2 linked regions of the Homo sapiens genome follow. Changing the gene in region 1 together with any one later gene gives a genetic interaction. Each region holds a gene or a part of one and is shown on either strand. Other genes may lie near its edges.

The links. A genetic interaction does not mean that the proteins touch.
Region 2: changes in DNA2 (region 1) and CTNNBL1 together harm fitness less than expected from each alone (positive genetic interaction), as found in Homo sapiens cells (one large-scale study listed by BioGRID).

What each region holds. Positions count from the first base shown.
Region 1 is NC_000010.11:68,413,564-68,416,768, reverse strand, and holds the end of DNA2 (DNA replication ATP-dependent helicase/nuclease DNA2), read left to right. Parts: coding exon 1-60; intron 61-1,661; coding exon 1,662-1,730; 3' UTR 1,731-2,705; downstream 2,706-3,205. UniProt on the Homo sapiens protein: Key enzyme involved in DNA replication and DNA repair in nucleus and mitochondrion.
Region 2 is NC_000020.11:37,777,079-37,781,318, forward strand, and holds part of CTNNBL1 (beta-catenin-like protein 1), read left to right. Parts: intron 1-266; coding exon 267-339; intron 340-575; coding exon 576-634; intron 635-2,108; coding exon 2,109-2,257; intron 2,258-4,240. UniProt on the Homo sapiens protein: Component of the PRP19-CDC5L complex that forms an integral part of the spliceosome and is required for activating pre-mRNA splicing.

The sequences.
Region 1 (3,205 bases):
TCACTAAATTGCTATCCTCCTTTGGAGAAGCTGCTTAATCATTTAAACTCAGAAAAATTAATATCCTTTTTCTTCTGTATATGGTCACATTTGATTGCACTGTTGTGAGTATTTATTTGCTTGTTTAAATTAAAGCTCTCACTATGTTGCTTAAGCTGGTCTTGAACTCCTGGGCTCAAGCGATCCTCCTGTGTAGGCCTCCCAAAGTGCTGTGATTACAGATGTGAGCCACGGCCCCCAGCCTATAACCCTTTTTTAATCCAGAACAAATGATTAGATTAAAATGGAGTATTATTTATTTTATATACAGGGCCTTGCTTTGTCACCCAGGCTGCAGTGCAGTGATATGATCAGAGCTCACTGCACCCTCAATCTCCCAGGCTAAAGTGATCTTCCTACCTCAGCCTCCCCAGTAGCTGGGCCCACAGGTGCATTCCACCATGCCCAGCTAATTTTTGTATTTTTTTGTAAAGACAGGGTTTCACCATGTTGCCCAGGCTGGTTTTGAACACCTGGGCTCAAGTGATTCACTCGCCTCCTCCCAAAGTGCTGGGACTACAGGTGTCAGCCACCACATTCAGCCTTTTTTTCCCCCAAGAAGTGGTGCCTAACTTCACTCAGGCTGGAGTGTAGTGGCAGGATCACTGCTCACTACAGCCTTGACCTGGACTCAAATAGTCGTCCCACCTTACCTTTCTGAGTATCTGGGACCACAGGTACGTACCACCACGCTTGGCTAATTTTTTAAAATTTTTAATAGAGAGGAGGTGAGCCACTGCACCTGGCCTTAAGATAAATCGTTTTTTAAAAATGTGTATGGGCTGGGCCTGGTGGCTCACACCTGTAATCCTAGCACTTTGGGAGGCTGAAGCAGGTGGATTGCGAGGTTGAGATTGAGACCATCCTGGCTAACATGGTGAAACCCCGTCTCTACTAAAAATACAAAAATTAGCTGGGCATGGTGACGTGTGCCTGTAGTTCCAGCTACTCATGATGCTGAGGCAGGAGAATCGCTTGCACCCGGGAGGCGGAGGTTGTAGTGAGCCGAGATCTAGCCTGGTGGCAGAGCGAGACTCCGTCTCAAAAAACAAAACAAAACAAAACAAAAAAAACAGTGTATGAAGTTCTTAGGCTTCATAAGAACTTCATACTTCTTATGAAGGTATGAAGTAGGCTAAGATAAATAACTCTGAGGCTGGGCGTGGTGGCTCACGCTTGTAATCCCAGCACTTTGGGAGGCTGAGACAGGCGGACTACCTGAGGTTGGGAGTTCGAGACCAGCCTGACCAGCATGGAGAAACCCTGTCTCTACTAAAAATACAAAATTAGCCGGGCATGGTGGCACATGCCTGTAATCCCAGCTACTCGGGAGGCTGAGGCAGGAGAATCTCTTGAACCCAGGAGGCAGAGGTTGCGGTGAGCTGAGATCGCACCATTGCACTCCAGCCTGGGTAACAAGAGTGAAACTCCATCTCAGAAAAAAAAAAAAAAAAGATAAATAACTCCTGTTGCTTAAAGGCATAATTATTCATTGAATGCCATAAAGATCCTTATTTTTTTTTTGTGGTCCTGTAAGTCAAATTACAAAATGTTAAATAATAATGTCATAAATTTATGCCATTCCATATTGTGCTAAATATTTCTTCCTTAATTTATTTTACATCATTGATCTTCCATCAAGAGAACATGAAAGTCTTTGCCACATATTGGGTGACTTTCAAAGAGAATAAAACACTATTTCCCTTGCCTTTTCATACTAGGGCAGTATCTCCTCTAGCTAGTGCCCATACAGAAAATTCTATCACCATACAAAATTTAATGCAGTATTTATGTTTTAAAGCACAGGTGTACCGAAAACTGTGAAAAGTCTGAATTTATGGGTTCTATGCATGCATTTTTGCCTAACCTAGAGAAAGAGTTTGATAAATTTTTACCAGCTTTGAAGATGGATTAACTTTTGACTTTGAGCTTTAAACTTTTAAGTCAGACATTTCAGGACTAATTTGATTTTGTAGATATCATTGTAAGAACTTTATTTGAAAGACTGAATAAAGGGATTTGATTTGTTTTCATCATTTAAGCACAGTCTTGTGATGATGAGAACATAAGTGTGATTCTTTTCTGTATTTTGAGGTCCCTAATCCAAAGCCCATTTTGCTAGGATTTTTTCTGCTATCAGATGTGTTTTCACTCTAAACCTAGTCTTTTATGACATGAATTGATTACTTCCTGTTAATTTTCTATCCTCCCTTACTATCCTCCTTTTTTGTTTTCAGTATTCAGTATTTCAGTATTCTAGAGTAGATTTTGATATAAAAGAAAATAATTCTTACATCATCTTTTGCAACAAATTTTGTTTTCTGAATTGATAATAAATTTAAAAAGTTGATTCCTATTTTCACATATGTTCATATGCCCCTATGTTTGGGGGTATCACTCAGTTTTCCCTTTTTTGTGTAAAGATGTTTTGTAAAACAAAATTGTCTCAAAGTGATTATATTATATATATAAAAAGTAACAGATTTTAACAAAGGTTAAAAGATTCTTGGGGTAACAGATTCTTCTGGGGCTTGGAAATCTTCCATTTCTCTTGAGGGTTTTTTTTAATGAGTGTTAAATATGTTAAAATTTTTATTTCTACCTCATGTGTTTTTTTAAATTATTACTTGAAGTTTTTTATTTAATAAATTTTTTCTACTAATGGATCTTAACTGTGTCAATTATTATTAATACTGAATAATAATTAAACTCAGGGTTATCTAGCATGTTTTGTTTTTTTTTTTTTTGAGACGGAGTCGCCCAGGCTGGAGTGCAGTGGTGCGATCTTGGCTCACTGCAAGCTCTGCCTCCCGGGTTCACGCCATTCTCCTACCTCAGCCTCCCGAGTAGCTGGGACTACAGGTGCCCGCCACCACGCCTAGCTAATTTTTTTTTTTGTATTTTTAGTAGAGACGGGGTTTCACCATGTTAGCCAGGATGGTCTCCATCTCCTGACCTCGTGATCCACCCACCTCGGCCTCCCAAAGTGCTGGGATTACAGGCGTGAGCCACCGCGCCCGGCCGCATGTTTTCTGATAGTGACAAGTGAAGTATTGATCATGCTAGAAAGCTGAAACCAAGCAGCATTGATATTATAAAGAGATTTATGAAGGGCACACAGGATGGGCTTGATCATGGAGAGGGGTTATAGATTAGATAGGACAAA
Region 2 (4,240 bases), on another chromosome or scaffold:
TCAAAATGGGAAATCTTGGAAGTCTTCACCGAGGAGGTAACCTTAATACCTGGGCATTAAGAGTGTGAGAGCCATTGTTTCAATCTGTCACTTTACTTGGTTCTGGTCTCTTGAGAGCAGAGGCAGACGTTTTTACCCTTAACTGCCTTTTCCTTTTCTAACTTCTGCTTCTCTCTAACTCAGATCATAGTACTCGTGAAAAATTTGTCCTGGGGAAGGAAGCAAGACCCCTTAACATTTTTCTCATTTCTCCTATTTCCCCATAGGCAAAGATGCCTTTTGATGCCAACAAACTGTATTGCAGTGAAGTGCTGGCCATATTGCTCCAGGACAATGATGGTGAGGCGCCCTCTCAGTATTGATATTCTGTTAGGATAGGAGCCAGGCTTGTTTCAGATCATGACAGCAAGCTCTCTTGCCTTTGGCATCCCCTTGCTCTCCCTCTCACTCCCTGTGCTGCTTTTGTACTCTGTCAAGCTGTATTGATTTTGTTTGCTGATGTATCAGTGTTAGACGGCTGTAAAATCTGACAGTTAGGTTCATTTTTTTTCTTCCTCTATTTTTTTCCCCTTTAGAAAACAGGGAATTGCTTGGGGAGCTGGATGGAATCGATGTGCTTCTTCAGCAGTTATCCGTGAGTAATTCTTATGCTTCCTGTCTGCTGTAAGATACATGGTCTGCTTTGAATGGGAGGTGGAGCTGGAAACTGTGGGAAGGAATAAGCCATGTGCTGCAAGCCATATGGAGCATGTTGGCAGGTTTGAGGGTTATACGGAGGGACATGGTTTGCCTCCTTTTCTTAGTCATTTGCTCTTTATGACCAGACATCACTGTGTATCAGTTCTGAACTTTCTTCATCTTCTGATATGATATTGTCAACTCAAAAAAGATGTGCCTCATGCTTAAGTGTGTATGTTCTGGGCCAAGCATACCAAATTATTTTCATTTGACCCACTGCCAAGATTATTCACCAACCTTCCTTTCAATCTGCTGTGAAAATGGAGTATGTTCATTTAGGATCTGAATAAGCTCAAGGAGTACAAGTTCCACTGCAGTGGGGTGGGGGTCAAGGGGAGGATAGGGGAGGATGTGGTGCTGAAGGCTGGAGTGAGAACTTGGAAACTGCCATTTTCTCACTGTAAGAAATGTAAATCCAGTTGAAATGTTATTCTGCTGGCATTCTGAAAATACTGTTAAGATTTCCTCTTACAAGTTTTAGCTGTGTTATTCTAAAAACAGGACTGAAAATAGATCATTTGGATAAAATCTTAAGAGTGTTGGGAGAGTCTGAGATGTCAGTTTGCATACAGCTTCCATCTTGGTGCCAGCAGCCTGAGTGTCTTGGCCTCCACCCCAAAAATAGAGCTTTGAAATGTGAATCTGTTTCCAGTTCTGGGAAGGTGCTTAGTCCTTTTCCTGTGAGATTATTGATCTTCTTGTAGTAGACTGTATGGGTATGCATATACAGTTTAAAGGCTTCTCTTAACATGCCTTACATCTCTGGCAAAAAGAAAACTAATGCTGTAAGCCCTTCCCATGAATTAAAGCCCCAGCTCCCCTGTGAGGGAATTCAGTAGCCTTGGTTGTCAGGAAATGCTTCCTTATATTGAGCCACGATTCAGCCCTCTGGATTGTGGTTGCTTTTAGAAGGGAAAGAAATGAGATATGGTTGGGTTGGGCAAGTGGAGGGCTTTGAGGGGAGTTGGCAAAGTTGTTTCTCATCCTGGATAATGATTTCAGGGGTGTTCACTTCATTTAGTTTTATATGTCCTTTATGGAGTTTTTCTGTATCTGTGTTATATTTCACGATAAAAAGATTTTGTTTTTTATTGGGTTTTGGTTTTTAAAAAAATCTGCTTGCCTGGAACTGTCAATTACTGATGGACCCAGTGGTCAGTAGAGTGTTTTGGCTTTTTTTTTTGCATGTATTTAATATATGTGAATCATTTAGTTTCTCTAAAATGGAAACTGATGAGAATTTTGTTTGGTGAGCTTCTGTTTCCTCAGTCGTAGAGTTATGACCCACAGGTTTTAGGAATTGTTGGATGGAGGCTCATGAAAAGACATTCTCTTATAGCTCTGTGCTTTGTGCTGTTTTTGCTTGACAGGTGTTTAAAAGACACAATCCCAGCACGGCTGAGGAGCAGGAGATGATGGAGAATCTGTTTGATTCCCTCTGCTCCTGTCTAATGCTTAGTTCCAATCGTGAGCGCTTCCTGAAGGGCGAGGGTCTTCAGCTGATGAATCTCATGCTCAGGTATGTTTCGAATGCCCTAGTTCTCCCACCTTTTTTGCCTGACTTTTCACTGTTAGCCTGAATTCAAGAGCATGTAGCTATGATCATTTATTCTGTTGGGTTTCCTAGACTTTACCCTGAAGAGTAAAGTCTTCAGGCATGGGGGGATGTGTTTGTATAGGTATGTGGTCTTTCCTAAAGTTAGAGTAGATGAATAAAAAGTATATTGTGTTCTGTTTGTGCCCTACTGTGGTGGTTGCTAATACGTCCACTCCATTGAAGGACATTGGTGTTTTTCCTCTCCTTCCCATAGTGTGTTAGTTTTGGGGAAATCTAGCCATTACTTCTAAACTTGGACTAATTTTCTGTATATATCACATAGACCTATCTATGCCATATGTTTGTATTTTTATTGAAAGCAGCGTATCATTCATATTTTTCACTCCTCATTCAGTAATGAGTTGTACATGTGCTGTATGCCTAGCTTAGGAAATATGAAAACGTGCAAGACAGTTCTAGAAACTTTTATTTATAGTACTTTCCTTGTGTGTCTTATTATTTATACGCTAATTCCTGAAAGTGGATCTTATATTAGTTTCACAGTTATTTTATAGAATCCTAAAGTTAGAAGCAAAAAGGGGAGAGGAAGCTTATGTTGATAACTCTTGAGACCCTGTCTAGGAAGGGGAGTAGAGAAGTGTGTGGGGGAAGGCTGAGGGGATAACCAGACTGTGGTATAGGGTCAAGGGACTTAAAAAAAAAAATCGAGCATGTTTATGTGGTTGGAAGATTCTAGTCATTATGAATTGTGCCCTACAGAGGAGCAAGTTGAGATTTAAAAAAAAAAAAAACAAGAAAAAAAGAAATGGAGCCAGAGTCTGCTGTCTTAAAACTTCAAGTATACTGAAAGTTCTGTTGAACTAAGATATTTCTTTGGAAAGGTTTTTCATAAATGTGATATATATTTGTTAAATAGAATTTAGAATACTAACATATAAAACTGCTATTAAAACATTGACAAGGTACTATGTTAAGTACTGGGCATACACAGAAATACCTAAGACAGAATTTCTGTCTCCACAAAGTTAGGAAAACAGTTCTGTGAGCTAAACACAGCCTGTCTTTGGGTGTATATTTTCTTCTAGTCTTTTTTTCTATAATTTTTAACAACTTTTTAAGCCTGCCACACATAGGATTTTCTGTATTGCTACATTTCAGACATAAGATGCTGTTTCCCATGCTGTGAATAATCTTCATGAGAGTTTTCAGTAACTGCATCATGGCCTCTAAGGGACTGTAGCTTACTTAGTATTCTTCTGTTGTTGGCATTGAGGATATTTCCAATGTTTTGCCGTTATAACAAATTCTACAGTGACCATTTTTGTGTTTAAAATGATGTTAGGATTATCCAGGTACAGTAAGTCCTCACTTAACATCATCAGTAACATTCTTGGAAACCATAACTTTAAGCGAAATGATGTATAATGAAACCAGTTTTTCTGATCATTGTTATAACGGTGTTATTTGAGGATCTGACCTCCTATATCCCGTTTTACTTAAAGTTGCCATTTCCAAGTCTATCTATGATGTTAAGTGATGACTTACTGTGTATATTTCTAAAATATATTATCTTTAAAAGGCTTCTGGGGGGCTGGAGGCACAGTAGACCTCTTCATTTGTCCAGTGTGTACCAGACCTTGCATTGACCAAAAGTCTTCCTTTGAGGAATTGCTTTTAAAAACAATTTTTAAAAAAATGCAGAGAGGAGCATGAGAAATTACTCAGAGGCCTTTTGTGTTTAGCTGATTTTTGCTAGCTTTACTCTCTTGAGTCTTTTGTTTATCTCCCTTACCCTTCTAATTGCTTGTCCTTTTGTTGAAATGACCCACCTTCTCTCAAGTAAATAGCATAAATAGAAGATACATTTGGCTTCTTGGATCTTCTAACCTTAACACAATGTTCTGAAGGGACTTTTCCTTAAGCTTCTTAAAGGTCTGAATTGCC